4 linked regions of the Homo sapiens genome follow. The protein of the gene in region 2 binds, or shares a complex with, the protein of the main gene of each other region. Each region holds a gene or a part of one and is shown on either strand. Other genes may lie near its edges.

What was found.
Region 1: CIRSR (region 2) and DNTTIP1 share a complex: the UniProt entries of both Homo sapiens proteins name them as parts of the histone deacetylase complex.
Region 3: CIRSR (region 2) and HDAC3 share a complex: the UniProt entries of both Homo sapiens proteins name them as parts of the notch corepressor complex.
Region 4: CIRSR (region 2) and ZNF541 share a complex: the UniProt entries of both Homo sapiens proteins name them as parts of the histone deacetylase complex.

Annotation. Positions count from the first base shown.
Region 1 is NC_000020.11:45,794,945-45,801,983, forward strand, and holds part of DNTTIP1 (deoxynucleotidyltransferase terminal-interacting protein 1), read left to right. Parts: intron 1-400; coding exon 401-499; intron 500-6,129; coding exon 6,130-6,198; intron 6,199-6,457; coding exon 6,458-6,514; intron 6,515-7,039. UniProt on the Homo sapiens protein: Increases DNTT terminal deoxynucleotidyltransferase activity (in vitro). Also acts as a transcriptional regulator, binding to the consensus sequence 5'-GNTGCATG-3' following an AT-tract.
Region 2 is NC_000002.12:174,347,486-174,350,715, reverse strand, and holds the end of CIRSR (corepressor interacting with RBPJ 1), read left to right. Parts: coding exon 1-56; intron 57-1,543; coding exon 1,544-2,219; 3' UTR 2,220-2,694; downstream 2,695-3,230. UniProt on the Homo sapiens protein: May modulate splice site selection during alternative splicing of pre-mRNAs. Regulates transcription and acts as corepressor for RBPJ. Recruits RBPJ to the Sin3-histone deacetylase complex (HDAC). Required for RBPJ-mediated repression of transcription.
Region 3 is NC_000005.10:141,620,369-141,626,876, forward strand, and holds the end of HDAC3 (histone deacetylase 3), read right to left. Parts: intron 5,916-6,508; coding exon 5,826-5,915; intron 5,704-5,825; coding exon 5,645-5,703; intron 5,397-5,644; coding exon 5,317-5,396; intron 4,998-5,316; coding exon 4,840-4,997; coding exon of another isoform or gene 4,752-4,839; exon of another isoform or gene 4,494-4,751; intron 1,170-4,493; coding exon 1,100-1,169; 3' UTR 513-1,099; downstream 1-512. UniProt on the Homo sapiens protein: Histone deacetylase that catalyzes the deacetylation of lysine residues on the N-terminal part of the core histones (H2A, H2B, H3 and H4), and some other non-histone substrates.
Region 4 is NC_000019.10:47,570,115-47,577,114, forward strand, and holds the start of ZNF541 (zinc finger protein 541), read right to left. Parts: upstream 3,035-7,000; 5' UTR 2,969-3,034; intron 2,919-2,968; exon of another isoform or gene 1,929-2,918; 5' UTR 1,782-1,928; intron 1-1,781. UniProt on the Homo sapiens protein: Transcription regulator which is essential for male fertility and for the completion of meiotic prophase in spermatocytes.

The sequences.
Region 1 (7,039 bases), on a different chromosome or scaffold from region 2:
TCCGCCACCACGCCCAGCTAATTTTTTGTATTTTTAGTAGAGACGGGGTTTCACCGTGTTAGCCAGGATGGTCTCGATCTCCTGACCTCGTGATCCGCCCACCTCGGCCTCGCAAAGTGCTGGGATTACAGGTGTGAGCCACCGCGCCCGTCCTGATTTTTTGCACTATTTACACCTCAATCTGTTGGGCACCCCCACGATTATATCCGTAAGAGGGGGAATAAAGGGAGGAGGTCAAGCCTGAAATGTGAATCTAAATCTGGCTGATCCCAAAGCCCTGCTCATAATCACTTTTCCCTTCTGTATGAAGCTAGGATAAAGACTTATTTTATATTCAGTTTCCTTCAGGTTGATGCACATTAACAGGACTCTGACCTTGTCCTCTGTTGTGCTCCCCTAGTTCTTCCAGAAGGCAGCACTGAACGTGCGAGACAATGTTGGGGAGGAGGTGGACGCAGAGCAGCTGATCCAGGAAGCCTGTCGGAGCTGCCTGGAGCAGGTGAGACCAAAGGGGACAAGAGATGCAGGCACAAGGTTTAGCTCTCGAGCCTCTGATAAGAAATGCGATCTTAAGCCGGACGTGGTGGCTCACACATGTAATCCCAGCACTGTGGGAGGCCAAGGTGGGCAGATCACTCAAGGCCAGGAGTTTGAGACCAGCTTGGGCAACGTGGCTAAACCCCATCTCTACAAACAATACGAAAATTAGCTGGGCATGGTGGTGCACGCCTATAATCCTAGCTGCTTGGGAGCCATAGGCACGAGAATCGCTTGAACCTGGGAGACAGAGGTTGCGGTGAGCCGAGATGGCACCACTACACTCCAGCCTGGGTGAAAGAGCAAGATTCTGTCTCAAAAACAAACAAAAAAAGAAATGTGATCTTGTCATCAGTGGTATTTTGGGGAATGCCCAGCAAGCCACATATTGAGATAGGCTTGAGGCTGTTGCTGACAGGGAAAGGAAGGGAAGTAGCTACTATATGTCAGGTACCAGGATAAATGCATTATTTTTTTTTATGTCTCAGAAGAAACTATGTACAGAAGATATCTTTTAATTACTATTTTATAGATGAAGAAATTGTGACTTAGCAAACTCATAGAAGCAGAGAGTAGAATGGCAGTAGCTGGAGGGGAGAAGTGGGGGGATGTTAATCAAAGGGTACAAACTTTTAGTTATAAGATGAACAAGTTCTGGGCAATCTGATGTACAGCATGATGACTATAGTTTATCTCTATTGTTTACTTGAAATTTGCTAAGACCATAGATCTTAAGTGTCCACACACAAAATGGTAGTGGTGGATGTGTTGATTGATTTCATTGTGGTAATCATTTCACTATGTATATCTATGTCAATTCATCACATTGTACACCTTGAATATATACCATTTCTGTTTATCAATTATACATCAATAGAGCTAGAAAAAAATTTTTAAAAGCAAAGCAAAAAAAAAAAAAGAAATGGCTTAAGACACATAATAATTAGAATAGCTAAGATCTGTCTCACCCCTGCAGGTGCGTGGTGGATCAAGTTATCATGGCCCCATTTGGTATCATGGGGATGAGCACCCTGCTGCCTCCCTGCCTCTCTGGTGTGGTCAGGAAGCATGACATCAGGTCTATAAATGACTGTTCCCAAGATAGTAGAGAACCTGTTTACATGTGTCAGCTGCTGTTATTAGGAGGAATTGTTGCCATCACCATTTTATAGGGAGACATCAGGAAAGGTCGCCAATAGTCGCTGGCTCACTTTCTCACCTCCTATTCATTCTCTTCACTTTGTTTTCGCTTCAGTCCCCACTACTTCACTGGAACCCCTCTTGTCGGGGTCGCTAGTAACTTCCGTGTTGTCAAACCCTCTGGTCCCTAACTGTCCTCAACTTACTCAGCTTCTCAGTGACATCTGTCACAATGGATCATTTCGCGTTTCTTGGAATGCTCCTCTGTTGGCTAGAGTGCCTTGACTTTGCTCCAACCTCATTGCCTACTCTTCTCTCTCACCCCCCGCCTCTAACTGTTGGTGCCTTCCCAAGTTCAGTCCTCAAACCCCTTCTCTTTCATGGCTCACTGTTTTCATAGGTGTTTTCATCTAGTCCTGTGGCTTGGAAGCCAATTCAGCCGCTCATAATTCACACATTTATATCTCAGTCCAGAGTTACATTCACCGTTACCCAGTTCCAATCCACTCTTCTCACAGCAGCCAGACTGATCTCCGTAAAGATGAATTAGATCATGTCACTCCCCATTTTAAAAACCCTTCAGTGACTTTCCTGTTGCAGGGAGAATAAAGTCTTAATGCCTTACCATGATCCTGCTGGGAAAACTGGCTAGCCATATGTAGAAAGCCGAAACTGGATCCCTTCCTTACACCTTATACAAAAATTAATTCAAGATGGATTAAAGACTTAAATGTTAGACCTAAAACCATAAAAACCCTAGAAGAAAACCTAGGCAATACCATTCAGGACATAGGCATGGGCAAGGACTTCATGACTAAAACACCAAAAGGAATGGCAACAAAAGCCAAAATTGACAAATGGGATCTAATTAAACTAAAGAGCTTCTGCACAGCAAAAGAAATGACCATCAGAGTGAACAGGCAACCTACAGAATGGGAGAAAATTTTTGCAATCTACTCATCTGACAAAGGGCTAATACCCAGAATCTACAATGAACTCTAACAAATTTACAAGAAAAAAACAAGCAACCCCATCAACAAGTGGCCAAAGGACATGAACAGACACTCCTCAAAAGAAGACATTTATGCAGCCAAAAGACACATGAAAAAATGCTCATCATCACTGGCCATCAGAGAAATGCAAATCAAAACCACAATGAGATACCATCTTACACCAGTTAGAATGGTGATCATTAAAAAGTCAGGAAACAACAGGTGCTGGAGAGGATGTGGAGAAATAGGAACACTTTTACACTGTTGGTGGGACCGTAAACTAGTTCAACCATTGTGGAAGTCAGTGTGGCGATTCCTCAGGGATCTAGAACTAGAAATACCATTTGACCCAGCCATCCCATTACTGGGTATATACCCAAAGGAATATAAATCATGCTGCTATAAAGACACATGCACACATATGTTTATTGTGGCACTATTCACAATAGCAAAGACTTGGAACCAACCCAAATGTCCAACAATGATAGACTGGATTAAGAAAATGTGGCACATATATACCATGGAATACTATGCAGCCATAAAAAGTGATGAGTTCATGTCCTTTTTAGGGACATGGATGAAGCTGGAAACCATCATTCTCAGCAAACTATCACAAGGACAAAAAACCAAACACCGCATGTTCTCACTCATGGGTGGGAATTGAACAATGAGAACACATGGACACAGGAAAGGGAACATCAGACACCGGGGCCTGTCGTGGGGTTGGGGGAGGGGGGAGGGATAGCATTAGGAGATATACCTAATGTTAAATGACGAGTTACTGGGTGCAGCACACCAACAAGGCACATGTATACATATGTAACAAACCTGCATGTTGTGCACATGTACCCTAAAACTTAAAGTATAATTTAAAAAAAAATGCCTTACCATGACCCACAGAGCCTACCCTCGACTGGCTTCTGCCTGCTTCTTTAACTTCATTTCATCTCACCTCTTTTTTATTGACTATACTCTGGCTGTTCTGAACTCCTTTCTGCTCCTCCAGCACAAGCTTAGGCCATTTCACTTGCTGTTCTTAGTACCTGGGGTACTCTACCCTTAACTCTATAAAGCCGGCTCCTTCTTTTCTTCAGATCTTAGTTTAAATATCAGAGAGGTCTTCCCCTCGCACTCCTACCTCTGCTAAAATCTTGAGCTTTACAAGAGTTGAGGCCTAATCTTGTTCACCACTGTATTCCCAGCCCTGGAATATGACTCTTAGTATGTGTACAGAGTTTGCTGAATTATTGAGTAAATGAAGGAACAAACAAATGATAAATGAACAAACAAGCTTCCTGCTCTAATAGAACTTAACAGCCTACTTAAGCAGACAGGTGTGAATTAGATTACCAACAAATGTGTGCATAATTACACATTGAGACTTGATCACCCTTCACTGGAAAGGGACAAAGTTTGGAGGAGAAGAGCATGAATCCAATTATGGATTAGCAGCTTTGAGCCATCCAAGCATAGACATGGGGCAGACTATTTGGTATATAAGTCTAGAGCTCAGAGGATAACCTTTTGTCTACAGTTGAATTATGGAATCGTGGTTTATAGATGTTAATTGAAGCTGTGAGAATAGGTGAGAGCAGATAGAATATGTAATGAGAGAGGATAGGGAAAAGAACCAGATTGAGAAGGAAAAGCCAGCAAAGAAGGCTAAGAAAGAACGGCCAGAGAAGTAGAAGGAACACAGGAAGTGTGGCCACAGGAGCCTGTAGAAAAGAGTGTTTCCAGAAGGGGGAGCCCTCAGCACTGTCAAATGCCACTGGCAGAGGTCGGGTGAACCCAATTCTCCACCTGCTGCACCATCTCCCCTCTGCCCATTCCATCCTTTTCTTTGTCAAATGAGCCAGGTGTTCCCACCTTTGAGCTTCTGCACTCCTCCCTGCTGCTGAAACACTTCTGCCCAGCTTTTTTTACAGCCTCCTTCACATCTCAACTCAGAGGCCACCTTCTGAGCAAGGCCTTCCCTGGCCATTCCCGCAAAGTAGCCCTTCCCCTCTGGTGGTTCTCTGTCACATCTGCCTGGGTTTTTTTCTTTTTTTCTCACAGCATCTATCATGATCCACAGTTACCTTGTTTGTTTCTGTGCTTATTATCCAGATCACCCACAAACTATAAGCTCCACAAGAGCTTGTCCTAGTTACTGCTGTGTCCACAGCACTTAGGTCCCAGGTACTCAGTATTTATTAAAAGAAAAACAGCAGGCCAGGCGCACTGGCTCACGCCTGTAATCCCAACACTTTGGGAGGCTGAGGCGGGCAGATCACGAGGTCAGAAGTGTGAGACTAGCCTAGCCAACGTGATAAAACCCCATCTCTACTAAAAATACCAAAAAAAAAAAAAAAAAAAATTAGCTGGGTGTGGTTGCACGCCTGTAATCCCAGCTACTCAGGAGGCAGAGGCAGGAGAATTGCTTGAACCTGGGAGGCGGAGATTGCAGACAGCCGAGATCGCACCACTGTACTCCAGTCTGGGCAACAGAGCAAGATTCCATGTCAAAAAAAAAAAGAAAAAAGAAAAACAGCAGCTTACTGAGGAGTATGTGTTATACTAATGTATTTAGTTTGAAAAAACATACAGTATGTATTTACATGGGAAAAGCAAGGAAGAATTTACATTGAAACATTAATAGTAGTTTATGTAATGAGATTCCAGGTTTTTCTTATTTTGCTTTTTTACATTTTTTAATTTTTCCAGCCATGATCATTAATTCAAGTTTTTTTAAAAATAGATATCTATTTCTATGCATATAAATATATATATGTGTGTGGCTGGGCGTGGTGGCTCATGCCTGTAATCGCAGCACTTTGGGAGGCCAAGGCAGGTGGATCACCTGAGGTTAAGAGTTCGAGACCAGCCTGGCCAACATGGTGAAACCCCGTTTCTAATAAAAATACAAAAATTAGCTGGGCATGGTGGTGGGCACCTGTAATCTCAGCTGCCTGGGAGGCTGAGGCAGGAGAATCGCTTGAACCCAGGAGGCGGAGGTTGCAGTGAGCTGAGATAGCACCACTGCACTCCAGCCTGGGCGACAAGAGTGAAACTCCATCTCAATTTAAAAAAAAAAAAAAAATATATATATATATATATATATATATATATATATATATATATATATATATATATATATATATTTGGAAGTGGGCCGATCACTTGAGGTCAGGAGTTCAAGACCAGCCTGTCCAACATGGTGAAATCCCGTCTCTTCCAAAAATACAAAAATTAGCTGGGTATGGTGGCGCACCCCTGTAGTCCCAGCTACTTTGGAGGCTGAGGCATGAGAATCACTTGAACCCAGGAGATGGAGGTTGCAGAGAGCCAAGATGGTGCTGCTGCACTCCAGCCTGAGCAACAGAGCAAGACTCTGTCTCCAAAAAAAAAAAAGGAAGTAGGTAGGGTGTGCTTACCCACCAAAATAGTGACTGGTAACACTTGGTCTTTTTCCCTTCAGGCTAAACTGCTCTTTTCAGATGGAGAAAAAGTAATACCCAGATTGACCCATGAGCTTCCAGGAATAAAGGTCAGAGTCACTGTGTTCTCGGGTATTGGAGCGGGAGGTCCTTCAGGCTGGGAGGCAAGTGAAATATGTGGGCCCAGGGAGGTTCCATGTACTTCCATTTGTAGGACCAGGCCCACACAGCATCATGCTGGATGGGCTTCTTTGGCCTGGGTCAGAGCGGGGCTGGAGAGCTGTAGTCCAGGGCTGTCTTCTGCAACTCCAGAAGACCTGCAGCTCCCAGGCACTGGCCTTCCACTGACTCCCTTCCCTTTTCTTTTAGCGTGGCCGTCAGGCAGAAGAAGAATGTGCCCATCGAGGAAGCCCCCTTCCTAAAAAGGTAAACCATTTCCTTGTTTTGTTTTCTGGCTGAAAAAAGGCTTGTCAGGCCGGGTGTGGTGGCTCACACCTGTAATCCCAACACTTTGGGAGGCCAAGCGGGGAGGATCACTTGAGCTCAGGAGTTTTGAGACCAGTCTGGGTAACATAGTGAGACCCTGTCTCTAAAATAAAAAAAAAATTAGCCAGGCATGCTGGCACATTTCTGTCGTCCTAGCTACATGAGAGGCTGCAGTGGGAGGATCACCTGAGCCCAGGAGTTCAAGGCTGTAGTGAGCTATGATCATGCCACTGCACTCCAGGCTGAGTAACAGAGTAAGACCCTGTCTCTCAAAAAAGGCTCTTCACTCCGCAAGGTACTGGGCTTCCTCAAAGCCCTTTTGAGCCTTCCTAGACATGAGAGGCAGTTTTTCTCCCTGTCCCTGTCAAACATCATTTGATCTCTTTGGAAAACCATCTCTGCCAAGTGACCCTGGACCTGCCAATGGGGTATGGGGAGTAACCACAGGGTCAGACCTCTGACAGC
Region 2 (3,230 bases):
CCAGAAGTTGAATTTTTAAAGTCACTAACAACCAAACAAAAACAGAAACTTCTCAGGTAATTTAGAAGTATATATTTAATAGATTTATTTTTTCCTTAGTATTCATCTCAGTATCGTATTCAACTCTGATCCTAAGAGCTCATGAAGGTCCTTATACCATGCATCACATTTATTGATTATTCTTCACCCATAGCTAATACAATTTTGTCTGTCTTTTCAGTAACATGGAAATGAGTGTAAGATTGTATACTCAGATTGTACCACAAAACGATTGCACTTTTCAGAATGTTTAATTTAGAATTAGACTTATTTATAGCTTTTACTTTTCAAAATAGATTTGTGTGTATCTTCGCACACAATTTGTTCTTAGGAAACATTTTTGGCCATTTTTAAAATGTTTTGTAAAATTTTATGAGAATGCAGAAAGAATGCTTAAATTTAAGGTAAACGTGAATTTTGTTAAACAGACTACCTCTGAATTAAAAGAATCCAAGAAATGTCTGCTGGGTCCAATAGAGGGAGCTCATGATGCTTTCAGTATGTAGAGTTTTGAGAATGGCTAGACAGAACCTAGAGACTTATTTTCAGAGTAACTCAAACATACCATATAAACAAGTTACTCCTCCAAGAATGTGAAGTACTCTAGAAATTCAGAATGTTTTAATAGGATTGTCCTATTTATAAAACTAAACAATTGTTGAAAACAAGTATTAACTATATTATTTTATAAAACCAATATTTCAGAAGTTTAATGTGTACTCTTACTCAGAATTTCTGGAGAATATTCTCTTGAATTTTGATAACGTTGATTAATATTTATATACTATAAAATAGTACATAAAATTAATTTTTCATCTGATTATAGCTATATATTTGCTTTTTTAGTAGTTCCAACTGATGTTACACACCTTTCACAGGCTTTCTTTAGGATGACCCTTTAGAGTGCTATATAATTTCAACTCAGTAAGAATTTAACAAAAAAGTAGTCATTACTATTGAAGTATAGTCAGAAAATTGGCTTGATGCATTTAATTTTTTAATTTAATGTATTCACGCTTTGAATAATTTTAAAGGAAGAAAATGAGTTGTCATTTAGTAAACAATGCGTTCATATATGGATACCAGTTCTTTTTTTTTTTTTTTTTTTTTTTAAGACAGAGTCTCACTCTTTTGCCCAAGCTGGAGTGCAGTGGCATGATTTTGACTCACTGCAACCTCCGCCTCCCGGGTTCAAGCGATTCTTCTGCCTCAGCCTCCTGAGTAGCTGGGATTACAGGCAGGTGCCACCATGCCCAGCTAATTTTTGTATTTTTACTAGAGATGGGGTTTCACCATGTTGGTCAGGCTGGTCTCGAACTCCTGACCTTGTGATCCGCCCGCCGTGGCCTCCCAAAGTGCTGGGATTACAGGTATGAGCCAGCGCGCTCTGCCATGGATACTATTTTTAATAACTTCTAAGAAAATATATTGTTTGTTCATAACTTACAGTTGATGAAATAACTGTTTTTCACACAGTCTGTTACTGTTTATTTCCCAATTACAGGAAATTAGATCGACTGGAGAAGAAAAAAAAGAAAAAAGATAGAAAAAAGAAAAAGTTTCAGAAGAGCAGAAGTAAACACAAAAAACATAAGTCCTCTTCTTCCTCATCTTCCTCCTCCTCCTCCTCTTCCTCTACTGAGACTTCAGAAAGCAGTAGTGAGAGTGAGAGTAACAATAAAGAAAAAAAAATACAAAGGAAGAAAAGAAAGAAAAACAAGTGTTCAGGGCATAACAACAGTGATTCTGAAGAGAAGGACAAGTCTAAGAAGAGAAAGCTTCATGAAGAACTTTCTAGCAGTCACCATAACCGGGAAAAAGCCAAGGAAAAGCCCAGGTTCTTAAAACACGAGAGTTCTAGGGAGGACAGCAAATGGAGCCATTCTGATTCTGACAAAAAGTCCAGAACCCATAAACATAGCCCAGAGAAGAGAGGCTCTGAAAGAAAGGAGGGGAGCAGCAGAAGCCACGGCAGGGAGGAAAGGAGCCGGAGAAGCCGGAGCAGAAGTCCTGGTAGTTACAAGCAAAGGGAGACAAGGAAACGGGCACAGCGAAATCCTGGTGAAGAGCAAAGCAGAAGAAATGACAGCAGAAGCCATGGCACAGACTTGTATAGAGGAGAAAAAATGTACAGAGAGCACCCAGGAGGTACACATACTAAAGTGACACAAAGAGAATGAAGCAGAAGTAGAGAAGAAAGACTGTATGTGACAATTACCTGGGAATAAAAATATCTCCACTTTTTTATTGAATACCTTTAGCAAGGGGTAAATTATGTACTGTTGTCTTTCTAATAAAAAAGCTCAATTTTAATTTTTCATCTCTAGACTGTCAATTCAAGTACAAAACTACATGAGTACTATAAGAATGAATTTTGCAAATATTTGTAAGTAAGCTATTTTGGGGCTGTGGAAATATTTTCTGTTGGTAACTGTTTCTTGTTCCCCATACCAGATAAAAACCGCATATAACTCTGTGACATTTTCTTTGTTCTGAAACATCATTAAAAGAATGACAGTACATTGAATGGGTATAATTTACTTTTTTCAATTCAAATTTGTTATTCTAGGATTTGAATTTGCTTGAAGTGAATTGTAATAATTATTCAAATTCATTAGTATAAATTAAGGATTAATAAATCTTTAAGACTTTTAAGCCCCCTTTAGGTGTTTTGTTCTATAGAATAAGCTGTTTACATTTGGATAATATTAGTTTTCTGTGCAGGTATACAAATTACCTCAAACTTAAAACAGTCCAACGGGGCCAGGCACGGTGGCTTTACGCCTGTAATCACAGCACTTTGGGAGGCCCAGGCGGGCGGATCACCTGAGGTCAGGAGTTTCGAGACCAGCCTAGCCAACATGGTGAAACCCCGTGTCTACTAAAAATACAAAAAATTAGCTGGGCATGGTGGCATGCAGTGTAGTTCTAGCTATTCGGGAGGCTGAGGCAGGAGAAACGCTTGAACCTGGGAGGTGGAGGTTGCAGTGAGCCAAGATTACGCCACTGCACTCCAGCATGGGCGACAGAGTGAGACTCCGTCTCAAAAAAAAAAAAAAAAAAAAAAGCCAGGCATGGTGGTGCGCACCTGTAGTCCCAGCTACTCAGGAGGCTGAGGTGGGAGAATTGCTTGAACCCAGGAGCGGAGGTTGCAGTGAGCCAAGATCACGCCACTGCACTCCAGCCTGGGT
Region 3 (6,508 bases), on a different chromosome or scaffold from region 2:
AGAATGGAGGGGAGGAAGTGACCCATCTATCAGTCCTCTTTCTTGTATCAGTCTGTATCTGCTACAATATTTATCATACTACTGACTGGAATGTAAACTCTTCTAGAGAAAGGTTCATGTTTGTGGCTACTACAGTATTTAGCATTGTTCTTCACATAGACAGATAATGGGCAACTTCTTCTGTCAGGCACTGTGCTAAGCACTTAACATGTTTTATCTCAGTGTATCTTCACCAACTAGCATCACTACTCTAAACACCCAGATTCAAAAACCTGAAGTCATCTTCTACTCCTCTCAAATCTGCCCAGGTTTGTCTAACTCTTAACCAAAATCCTCTATTAACTTCTTATATTTACAATAATAAATGTAGAATACATACACAGGGCCTAACGTAGGATAAGTGCTGAATGAATGTTAACTATGCTTTTATTACATGCATCATCATGCCCATTTCCCTCTCCTTTCATAAATAGGAAACTAGCAAGAATTAACATTCCTAGAAAGGCGAAAGGTACAAAAAATACCGACTTAGTTTATTGGATAAAAACAGTGGTAAAATGGACATAAAGCCAAAAGTGAGAACAGAACATTTTCATATCCTCCCCACACTTGAAAACATACTTCCCATCATCTGGGATTCAGGTGTTAGGGAGCCAGAGCCCCTTCCAAATCTCTCTCTCTTCATCTTCCCTGGAAGCAAGGGGAGGAAGAAGTCAGAACCCAGGGGAGGAGGAAGTCAGAGGCAATCTCAGTCCTTGTCTACCCGTTCATCCCTCAAAAATCTCTGGGTTCGAGGGAAGCAGGGAAGAAATAAGGGGCAAGGGGGGCTAGGGACTGGCCTCCAGGGCCCACTGCCAATAATGTCCCAGATAGCTATCCTTGTCTGTATCTCATCCCTAATAGGTACCATTGTCAGGCCTTGGGAGAGAGAGGAAAAGCAGGTAGATGGTTCGAGAACCAAATGTGGTCTCCAGACTCTTTCCCAGAGTCAGCAAAAGCCCTGGGGTGACCCCCAGGACTCTAGGAGCCACTCCTTTTCCCTCCAGCCCAACCAAGAGGTGAAAAGAAATTCCTTGGGACACAGCATCCCAAGCCACTCTTAAATCTCCACATCGCTTTCCTTGTCATTGTCATGGTCTCCATCATAGAACTCATTGGGTGCCTCTGGCCTGCAAAGCAAGGGGAGAGAGGTCAGGATCTCACTCTAAGTTCTAATCTTCTCCCAGCACCCTTTTCCAAAGCCATTTCTCAGGCCCCGTTGAGAACCACTCCTCCTCTTGTTGGTAGAGACTGCTATTCATTCACCCATTCACGTATCAAATAAACATTAAGGAACTACTCTATACAGACACTGTCATAAACCTTAGCAATACAGTAGAGTAACAAGCTGGACAAGGTTGTCTATCCTCAAAAAGCTTACCTAATAAATGAGACTAGTAACTAACAAAGTAAATAAATATAATAATTTCAGATGATGGAGAGTACAATTAATAAAATGAAGTGATAGGACTGAAGGTGATGAGAGGAAAAGGGTGAAATTTCAGACAGGACTATTGGGACATAAGACCTAAAGTCTGAGGAGGAGCTAAGCAGGCAAAGACTTCAGGAAGGCCATTCCAAGCTGCAAGAAAACCAACTACAGAGGTCATGAAATGGAAAGAGACTGATGTATTCCAGTAAGAACAAGGAGGCCAGGACAGCCGGGAGCACTGTGCATGGAGGAGAGTAGTTAGAGATGAGATCCTGGATGTAGGTAAGGGCTAGCATGCAGGACCTTTTTAAGCCACAGTCAAAATTTTGGATTTTCTTCTAAGTGCAAGGTAAAGGAGAGTTTTAATTTTAAGAAGAGTGACGTGGTATTATAAACCCATAGTGAAAGAATGGATGTGAAAGCAAAACAGGGCCCAACAGGTACTCAATATTGGTTTCTTTCTTTTTGAAAAAGTATTCTCAAAAGCCGGGCGTGGTAGCTCACACCTGTAATCCCAGCACTTTGGGAGGCCAAGGCAGGTGGATCACAAGGTCAAGAGATCAAGACCATCCTGGCCAACATGGTGAAACCCCGTCTCTACTAAAAATACTAAAGTTAGCCGGGTGTGGTGGCACATGCCTGTAATCTCAGCTACTGAGGAGGCTGAGGCAGGAGAATCGCTTGAACCTGGGAGGCGGAGGTTGCAGTGAGCCGGGATTAGCCACTGCACTCCAGCCTGGCAACAGAGTGAGACTCCATCTCAAAAAAAAAAAAGAAAGAAAAGAAAAAGTATTCTCTGGGACACAGAGAATTGAGAAAGTCATCAAAGAGAAGCTGAGGCACTAAGCCAGGAAAGGCCTTATCTGCATGGTGAGCAATGTCTCAGTTACTTCTAAGTGCACAGGGTTAAAGGTGTGGAGTCAGAGAATCAGGTTGAATCTCAGCCCTGATCTTTAACTAGCCATGTGACCTTCAGAAAGTTACTTAAGTCTCGCCGGGGGCGGTGGCTCACACCTGTAGCCTGTAATCCTAGCACTTTGGGAGGCCGAGGCAGGCAGATCACCTGAGGTCAGGAGTTCGAGACCAGCCTGACTAACATGGAGAAACCCCATCTCTTCTAAAAATACAAAAAAAATTAGCCAGGCGTGGAGGCTCATGCCTGTAATCCAGCTACTTGGGAGGCTAAGGCAGGAGAATCGCTTGAACCCGGGAGGCAGAGGTTGTGGTGAGCTGAGATCATGCCATTGCACTCCAGCCTGGGCAAAAAGAGCGAAACTCCGTCTCAAAAAAAAGAAAGAAAGAAAGTTACTTAGACTCTCTGAGCCTTAGATTCCTCCCGTGTTAATCTGAAAATAAGAGCCATCAGAGTTGTCTGATGGCAACAGAATGATCATATATATGTTGTAATAGATAGCACTTAGTAGTGTCTGGTGCTTGGCAAACCTACAAAAAGTGGTAACTCTTCCTATTTCTACTCTGCAAGTCATATGCAAGCTGGAGCTATAGGCATCAAAGAAGAACAGAAACTCAGTGGGTGGCCTGACAGAGAGGTAGGGCTTAGGAACAGGAAGAGGCCTGAGGCTTCTGCTGGCTGTGACAGGGCTTGGTATTATTATAATGCAGAGACTAGGTCCAGATGCCAGCCTGGAGCTATTGATAAAAAACCCAAAAGGAAGAACTTAAAAACAGGTTTTACCAAACCAAACCAGACAATGAAAAGCAATTTCCAATAGTCCTGGAAGCCCTGAAGCCAGACACTTCCAGATGTTCAGACACTTCCTCACTCAGAAGGGATCGGGGGATATCCTTGGAGGAAGAGAGTTGCAGAGATCCCCAAGAGTCAGAGCAGTAAAGCCCAGGTCCAGAGGAGAGATTCGGAGGCCTGAATTCTAAGACAGAAGCAGATTCTAGAAGGGGCTGAGAAGCCCATCAGGCTCTGCAGCAGAGCCGGCTCAAACCTCTAACCCTGCGTGGGAGCAAGACAGCGTGTCCCACAAGTGTCCAGCTGTGGTTATCCCTCAGTCATGTAAGGAAATCTGTTCCCCATTAAGTGCATCTGTTTCTGCACTTCTTGGTTCTGTTGTCTTTCCCTTTCATTTTTCAGCAAAGTTTTGGGATTAAAAAAAAATTCCATCCTATCCTTTTTCCCCCCTAATTCATTCCATCTACAAATATTTTGTATGTATCTCAGAAAGATAAAGACTTTTAAAAAAAAAAAAAAAACATAACCACAATGCAATTATCCCACCCGAAAAAATTAACAGAGCAAAGAAATCAAAGAGCCTTAGAGAGTATTACGCAGGCAGTGACCTGTCCAGCTCAAGACCTGGAAAGACTGAGAAAAATGCTGGCAAGACTATAGGGTGCTACAGACTTTCTGGACGGCAATTTGGCAGCAAATATAAAAAATTTTAGGCCAGGCTCAGTGGCTCACGCCTATAATCCCAGCACTTTGGAAGGCTGGGGCAGGAGGACATTTGAGCCCAGGAGTTTGAGACCAGCCTGGGCAACAAGGCAAGACTCCGTCTCTACCAAAAAAAAAAAAAAAAAAAAAAAAAAAAAAAAAAATTAGCCAGGTGTCGTGGTGCACACCTATGATTCCAGCTACTCGAGGGGCTGAGGCAGGAGGATCGCTTGAACCCAGGAGTTCAAGATTGCAGTGAGCTATAATCATGCCACTGTACTCCAGCCTGGGTGACAGAATGAGACCCTGTCTCAAAAAAAAAAAAAAAAAAAAAATTAATGCACACAGCCTTTGACCTAGCAGCAACCATTCTACTATCTAACCCACTCAAACAAGAATGCAAAGATGTATAATGTAAGGGGGTTCATTGCCACATTATTATTGTAATACCAAAAAAATGGAAAATAATCTATCCACATAGTAAATTATTATACAGCTGATAAAATACTGAAGCAGATCTATATTAGCTAGCTGAAAACAGCTATATGATGTAAAGCAGCATACGTAGAATGACCCTATTTGTATTTACGAAAAACCAAAAACCACACAAACTGTAAATGAGTGTATATGTGTTTGTTTATATGTACATACAGAATAGTATATTTGCAATCTATAGAAAAAGGTCTATCCAAAACAATAAAAACTATTAACAGTGGTTACTCCTGTGGAATAGGTCTGGGATTGTGTGAACGCCAACACCATATTTTGGTGCTGTTTTAAAATTTTGCAATAAATACGTGTTACTTTTGTCATTAAAAATAACAAAGAAAAGAGTGAGGAAATTGTAGCAGACTAAAGGAGGTAAGCCAGAGGCAATTAAACTAATACCTTCCCATTTACTTTTTCCCTTTTAAACCTCCCCAGCAAGCCTATTGAAAGTAGGCTGAAGTCCCTGCTCCCAGACCTGCTATAGTTCTCCTCAGGACCCCTCTCCTCTGCATCAGCCTCATCAGTCCTGTCATAGGTCAGGAGGTCTGCAGGCACGTCATGAATCTGGACACTAGGTGCATGGTTCAGCATCTTCAGGTTTTCAAAGATTGTCTGGCGGATCTGGTCCAGATACTGGTTGGAAATGAGGAATACAGAGTGAGCAGTTTCCAGAGATTCCCAGGACATGGAATCTCCTAGCTGCCTTTTACCCCTACCATACTGGTTTTCATCTCAGTGGTACCTCTAGTTCAGGTCCCCCAACTGATAGCTCTCCCTCCCCACCAACCCCAACTGCCTCTACTTTAAACTGGACTGCCTCCTAGTCAATAACAGTGACTGTGATGGCTTAGAACTTCCTTCTCTTTGGTTTTTCCTACTTCCCACATCTTTGACCTCTCCTGGGCTCCACCTTTCAGGAGAAGTTTGTGCTCAGCTTTTCTGAGCTGCTGACCTGGCGTGAGTTCTGATTCTCGATGCGGGTGCTGACATCTGGATGAAGTGTGAAGTCTGGGGCAAAGTACTCGAAGTATTCTTGGGGAGGAGAGGAGAAAGTATGGCTCAGACTGAGAAAGGCAGCTAACAAGACTTCCCAATCTTTTTCCTTCCCATCCAGAGCACCTACATAATAGCTGCCCAATCTCTTCCCTGCTCTGAGCCCAGGGGTTTAGTCTGCAGAGCTCTGAGAGTGTAAAATTTCCCATGTGCCTTCAAACCAGGTCATTCTGGAATCTGGTGAGAATGGCCTTCCTGTTATGGGGGTGTTGTGGGGTGGTCCTTACCACTATAGGGAAGCTCCTCACTAATGGCCTCTTCTACCAGCAGCGATGTCTCATATGTCCTGAAACCAACCAGCAGAGGGGAGCAGGCTGACCAAGTGGGCTGAAGGACCCATGTGGCCATATCTGAGGGACACCCTAGCTCACACTGGACAACAGGGGAGGAAATCAGGAGAGTGCTCACCAGCAGCGGGCAACATTTCGGACAGTATAACCACCACCACCCAGCACGAGTAGAGGGATATTGAAGCTCTTGACATATTCAACGCATTCCCTGTTAAAAGGAACCAGAGGAAGATGTGGAGGAGGTTATCAAAAGACAAGGTAAATACCTTTAGGTATTGCCTGAAAGGAGCACAAGAAAACTATAAATGTTCTAAATCTTTATCTTGATAGTGAAATTCATTATGTTATACCCTTAAGATTTGGGTATACTTTATATGCTGTGTCTCAATAAAAATTTTAAAATAAAGCACAGTCCCCCCTCTGTTCTGCTCAACACCCTCCCTGGCACCCTGCCTGCTAATCAACTATTCTCATCAACCCAAGTTCTGTCAATTCTAGCCTTGAAAATATAACTCACGCCCGGCGCGGTGCTCACGCCTTTGTAGTAGTCCCAGCTACTCAGGAGGCTGAGGCAGGAGAAATGCTTGAACCCAGGAGGCAGAGCTTGCACTGAGCCAAGATCGTGCCACTGCACTCCAGCCTGGGTGACAGAGCAAGACTCCATCTCAAAAAAGAAAAAAAAAAACATATATATGTGTGTGTGTGTGTGTATATATATATATATACACACACACACACACACACCTCTCAGATCATCTACTTCTCTCCATTGCCACCCCCTCCACCTTAGTCTGGGCACCT
Region 4 (7,000 bases), on a different chromosome or scaffold from region 2:
ATACAAAAAATTAGCCAGGAGTGGTAGCGGGTGCCTGTTGTCCCAGCTACTCGGGAGGCTGAGGCAGGAGAATGGTGTGAACCCAGGAGGTAGAGCTTGCAGCAAGCCGAGATCACTCCACTGCACTCCAGCCTGGGCGACAGAGCGAGACTCCATCTCCAAAAAAAAAAAAGTCCATTTTGGCTGGGCGTGGTGGTTCATGCCTGTAATCCCAGCACTTTGGGAGGCTGACGCAGGCAGATCACTGGAGGCCAGGAGTTTGAGACCGCCTTGCCAACATGGTGAAAACCCGTCTCTACTAAAAATACAAAAATTAGCCGGGCATGGTGGTGGGCACCTGTAATCCCAGGTACTCAGGAGGCTGAGGCATGAGAATCACTTGAACCTGGGAGGTAGAGTTTGCAGTGAGCTGAGATAGTGCCAATGCACTCCAGTCTGGGCGACAGAGCAAGACTCTGTCCTAAAAAAAAAAAAAAAAAAAAAAAAGCGCATTTTGTTTTTTTGTTTATATATAATGGGTTTATTACTGCCCTTTTAAAATCAATTAATAAACATTTTGAAAGTTGATTAGTTTAAACTTCTAATACAGCAAATGCCAGTAGATAAAGTTTACATAAACAAAAATTCTCTACAGCCTTCAATAATTTTTAAGTGCAAAGGGGTCTTAAGAGCAAAAGTTTTAAATTAGCTGGGCGTGGTGGTGCACGCCTGCAGTCCCAGCTACTTGGGAGGCTGAGGCAGGAGAATTGCTTGAACCCAGGAGGCAGAGGTTGCAGTGAGCCGAGATCGCACCACTGCACTCCAGCCTGGGAAACAGAGAGAGACTCCATCTCAAAAAGAAAAAAAAAAAAAAAGTTTGAGAACTACTATTCCAATAAGAAAAAGTCCTGCATGTCCACATACACATGTGCCCAAGCAGACACGCATCTAAAAGAAAGAAACCCGAAACTGAAAATTCCAAAGTGGTGGCCGGCAGGCATATTTTATAAGTTCCCTATGCTGTCTTTTTTTTTTTTGAGACGGAGTCTCGCTCTGTTGCCCAGGTTGGAGTGCAGTGGTGCAATCTCGGCTCACCACAACCTCCGCCTCCCAGGTTCAAGCGATTCTCATGCTTCAGCCTTCCCAGTAGCTGGGACTACAGGCGCCTGCCACCACATCCAACTAATTTTTTGTATTTTTAGTAGAGACAGGGTTTTACTATATTGGCCAGGCTGGTCTCAAACTCCTCAGCCGCCTCGGCCTCCCAAAGTGCTGGGATTACAGGCATGAGCCACTGCGCCCAGCCTACGCTGTCTTATTTAATTCTTAAATTATCAAATGTGTTGCTAGCATTTAAAAATCAGAAGGTTTCACCTAAGGATAGTTTTCTGGCCTCTTCTCAAAGAAATCGAAAGTTCTGGCAACACTGGCCTGGCATTTCCACTGCCTGGCATCACTTAGATGGGACATACAATCTTTGCTTCACGACAATCCTTACTTCTTCCCTTTACCTGTGCCTTACCTGTAAGTATCTGAGTTGCCACCCTGAGCTAGGGAAGGAAAAACGTTTTTTGCAATAAACATCAATAAAGAAACACACATCAATCTATGTCTGCACTCCTCCTAACAGGTCAACATGCACAATAAATAGCCCTTTTCCCTGTTTGACTTCTCCAAAGCAGTAACTTGTATGATTACCATTAGTACGGACTTTGGTATTGCTTAGAAACCCTCTTGAGAAAGAACGAGATCTATCCAACAAAGCAGGTGTCTTTGGCTCAGTGCAAAGGAAGGAAACTCACCAGAAGAGCAAGTTAGTGAATCTCCAGGGAACAGGAGGACCCAGTTTAGGCCCCACAGGGAGGGGGTTCAGGTGACAAGCAGACCACTGGATATGTCCTCCTGGAACACTGAGTGGTAAATGCAGGATACTCCCAATTTCTTTTGCCCTGAAAGCAGGTGGTGGGAAGGAAGAAGCAGTCAGGACTTGGGTCCCAAAGAAACAAGAACAGAGATGTGAAAATGGAGAAGAGCAACAATTTTTGGAAGAAGGCAGAAAGCAGTATCAACAGCGGAGATTTGAGTGAGGAGGAAAGGTTTTTTTGGTAAGAAGAAATAATTGTTCCTTCTTTCCTTATTTTTCCCCCGTGGGAAGAGACCTAGAGAATTTTACCGGGAGAAACTTAATTAGGGCAGAATTGGTGATAAAATAAGGATATTTGCTGGAAAGTTGGGGGTAGGTGAGGAGGACTGGAAACATAAATATTAGACGAGAGAGAAACTGGAAGGAATTAGTTGGTTTGTTCTAAGCGAAGATATTCCAAAAAGGGGCACTCTAGGTGTGAAGAAAAAAATTTTGCTGGAAAGTGATCCTGAACGGATGAAAAAAAACTGGGTTAATTTTTTTTCTTTTTTTGCGCTAAGGGAAGTTACTTAAAGGAGGGGGAGGGGCATGTCAAGGAAAGGAGGAGAGATTTGGAGTTTTGCTGGAAGATCCTAAAAAGGGATAAATCTGGGTGCCCCAAAGTGGGACTATGGAGGAGGAAGGGGGATTCTGAGCAGAAGGGGCCTGGAAGAGGCTAGCGAATGCAAGGCCCAGATGCAGAAGGTGGGGAGGTCGGGTAGGGCCCGCGGCGCGAGCTGGGGGGCTGCGAGGGGGCAGTTGAGGCCCGGGGGGACGGAGTGGGAAAGAAAAGGGGGTGCAGCGGGCCAGGGGATCCTGAGGAGGGTCTTCTCCAAGGGGGAAGGGCCTGTGGGGTGCAGCGGGGCCCGGAGCTGTTGGGTTGCAGAAGATGCGTGCGTGACGCAGGGTGAGGGGCGCCCGCCGCGCCTGCTGCGCCCCTCGAAAGGCAGATGGGGCCCCCTAAAAAAAGAAATCAAGAAACGAATGAGATTGTAAAAAGGGGGAGGGGTTGAAAAAAGAGGAAATAATAGTAATGGGGGATAAGGAGGAAAGGGAGGGGCAGGGGCAGCAGCAACCGGGTTTTACCCGCCCCCGGGGGCTCGCGCGCCGGGCCTCGCGCCTGGCGCCTCGCGGGGCTCCCAGCGGCCTCCCGCCTTCCCCGCGCCGCCCGGGGCGCACGCGCAGCCCGGCCCACCCCCGGATCTCCTCGCTCACGCGCGGCGCAGGCGCGCGTACGTGACCGCGGGCCGCCTCACGCCTCCCAGAGCGGCCTCGCGCGTGCCTCCTGGCCGCGCGCTCTCGGCTGCTTCTCCGAGGGGCGGGGCTTGCCGCGGGCGGGAAAGGAGGCGGTTGGTCGCCATTTTGGGAGGGGGCGGTTGAGGGCGGAGAGTGAGAAGAGTGAGCCGGGGAGGAGCGGCGGGGGGAGGGGCCAGTCCCCCAAGACCCGCATCCCGAGGCCGAGAGTCCCGGGAGCCTCCACTCCAGCCATTGTTCCTGGTGGGCGGTGTTAGAACGCGGTGGCGGCCGCTGGATGGCTGCCCCCAGTCCCCGGAGGGGCCTCTGAGCAGCGTCCTGGTGCTGGGAGGCCGTATCGTCTGTTTCCGAGGACCCTGTCGCGAGCGCGGGAGTCTCTCAGGGTCTCTTCTGCGTCATTGGGTGGGGGAGATGTGGGGCGAGCTGCTCCTCCCTTTTTTTAAAATTTTTTTCAGAGACAGGGTCTCTCCCTGTTCCCCAGGCTGCGATCACGGCTGCCGCACCCTCCCCTTCCTGGGCTCAGGCGATCCTCCTGCCTCAGTCTCTTGAGTAGCAGCGACCACAGGCGGGCGCCGCCACACCTTGCTAATTTTTACATTTTTTTTAGAGATAAGGTCTCGCCATGTTGCCCAGGCTAGCCTGGTTCCCCTGGGCTCAAGCGATCCTCCTGCCTCAGTCTCCCAAAGCATTGGGATTATAGGTGAGAGCCACCGCGCCCAGCCTATTCCTCCCTTCTTTGGGGAAAGGCTGAGCCATCTGGGGCCCCTGCTCCGTGCTGAGCTGTGTTGGGAAGGGCGGTAGGCCCTGGTGCCGACTGGCCAAGGACCATCTTTTTTTTCTTTTTTTTTTTTTTTGAGACAGGGTCTTGTTCTGCCGCCCAGGCTGGAGTTCAGTGGTGCGATCTCGGCTCACTGCAATCTCCGCCTCCCGGGTTAAAGCGATTCTCCTGTCTCAGCCTCCCGAGTAGCTGGGATTACAGGCACGTGCCACCACGCCCGGCTAATTTGTTGTATTTTCAGTAGAGACGGGGTTTCACCATGTTGGCCAGGCTGGTCTTAAATTCCTGACCTCGGGTGATCAGGTGATCCGCCTGCTTCTGCCTCCCAAAGTGCTGGGATTACAGACCTGAGCCACCGTGCCCGACCTGGCCAAGGGGTTTGAACTGTCCTGCAACTGAGGCAGATAATTCATTCCTTAGAAACGGAGTGCTGAAGATCTGTGGAGAATGAGAGCAGATTAGTGGTTGCCCGGGGTGGAAAGGGGCATCGCGGATCTTATCTGGGTAATGGAAATATTCTAAAACTGAGCTATGGGCCAGGCGTGGTGGCTCACGCCTGTAATCCCAGCTCTTTGGGAGGCCAAGGTAGGAGGATCCCTTGAGCCTAGGAGTTTGAGACCAACCTGGGCAACCTAGTGAAACCCTGTCTCTAAAAAAAAAAAAAAAAAAAAATTAACTGGAGATGGTGGCATGCGCCTGTAGTCCCAGCTACTTGGGAGGCTGAGGCAGGAGGATCGCTTGAGCCTGGGAGTCCAAGGCTGCAGTGAGCTATATGATCAGGCCATTGCACCCCAGACTGGGGGATAGAGCGAGACTCTGATGGGGGAAAAAAAGGGTTATGGTGATGGTTGCACAACTCAGTAAATTTCTAAAAATCAGTAAGTATACACTTAAGTGAGTGACTTTTATGTAAATTATACCTCAAAGTTTTTTTTTTTTTTAATTGATTATTGGGGGAGGAAACAGAGGAAAGAAGAGGGCCTGTCATCTTGCTTTAGGATCCCTTCATTTAGCAAGTTTTTATTGGGTCTCTGTTCTAGGTGCTCAGATATAGTGTCTGGGTCAAACAGACATTCCTCTCCTCCTGGAACTTATGTTTTAGAGCAGTGCTGTTCAGTAGTAATAAAATGCAAACTTCAAGCACCAGCCACTTATGTAATTTTACATTTTCTAGTAGCCATGTTTAAAAGGAACAAAATGTAAAGAAGGCAGGTGTGGCGGCTGGCACTTGTAGCCCAGCTACTTGTGAGGCTGAGACAGGAGGATCACTTGAACCCAAGAGTTGGAGACTGCAGTGAGCTATGGCCCTGTCTGTGTAGAGCCACTGCACCAGCCTGGGCAACATAGTGGGACCCATTCTCTTAAAAAAAAAAAAAAATGGCTTGGGACGGGTGTGGTGGTTCACACCTGTAATCTCAACACTTTGAGAGGCTGAGGCAGGAGGATTGCTTGAGTTCAGGAGGTCAAGACCAGCCTGGGCAACACACCCAAACCTAAAAATCAAATAAATAAAAGTAAATAATAAAATAAAAGAGAAAGAAACACAAGTGAAATTAATTTGGTAATATTTAATCCCAAATATTTCAACACATTATCAGTATAAAAACTAAGAGATAATTTACACTTTTGGGGCTGTCTTTAAAACCCCACATATACAGTATTTTACATTCACGGGACATCTCAATTCAGACCAGCCACATTTCCAGGGCTCCATGGAACCTTGTAGCGAGTGGCTCTGGTACTGACAGCATACCTCTACAGGGGGACAAGCAAATGCATTTACTTTTTTTGTTGTATTTTTTTGATACAGGGTCTCACTATGTCACCTAGGCTGAAGTGCATTGTTGTAATCATGCCTCGCTGCATCCTTGACTTCCTGGGCCCAAGCTATTATACCACCTCAGCCTCCTGAGTAGCTGGTACTACAGGCCTGCACCACCACACCCAGCTAATTTTTTGTATTTTTAGTAGAGACAGGGTTTTGCCATGTTGGCCAGGCTGGTTTTGAACTCCTAGGCTCAAGCAGTCTTCCTGCCTTGGCCTCCCAACATGCTGGGATTACAGGAGTGAGCCACCGTGCCTGGCTGCAAATACATTTATAATGCAGTATGTTATACCTTGAAGAAAAACAAAGGAAAGAGGATGGGGTCAGAGGGTATTGTTTTATACAGGTCAGTAAAGGCTTCTCTGGTGAGATTGCATTGAGCAGAGATCTGAAGGAAGTAAGGAAGGGTCCTATGAAAATATCTGGGGGAAGAAGAGAGGGAACAGCACGTGCACAGGCACTGAGGCAGGAAGATGTGGAACCCTTTTGAAAGACAGCAGAGAGGCCAGGCATGGTGGCTTATGCTTGTAATCCCAGCAATTTGGGGGGCCCAGGTAGGCTGATCACTTGAGCCCAGGAGTTCGAGACCAGCCTGGCCAACATGTTGAAACCCCATCTCTACTAAAAATACAAAAAATTATCTGGGCATGGTGGTGCACACCTGTAGTCCCAGCTACTCGGGAGGCTGAGGCATGAGAATCTCTTGAACCTGGGAGGCAGCGGTTGCAGTGAGCCGAGATCACGCCATTGTGCTCCATCCTTGGTAACAGAGTGAGACTCTGTCTCAAAAAAAAAAAAAAAATCAGAAGAAGAGAGACCAGTGTGGCCAGAACCACGTGAGTGAAGAAACTAGGGGCAGATGGCATAGGGACTTACAGGTCATGCTAAGGCAGGAATTAAACTCCTGGAAACAATTTCAGAGGGTTCTTCCTTTATTTAGCACACTTTTTGTTTTGTGGGGTTTTTTGTTTGTTTCTTTTATTTTCTTTCTTTTTTTCTTTTTTCTTTTTCTTCTTTTTTTTCTTTTGAGACAGAGTCGCGCTCTGTAACCCAGGCTGGAGTGCAGTGGCACCATCTCGGCTCAATGCAACCTCTGTCTCCTGGGTTCAAGTGATTCTCCTGCCTCAGCCTTCTAAGTACCTGGGATTACAGGCTCGTGCCACCACGCCCAGCTAATTTTTTGTATTTTTAGTAGAGACGGGGTTCCACCATGTTAGCCAGGATGGTCTCCATCTCCTGACCTCGTGATCCACCCGCCTCA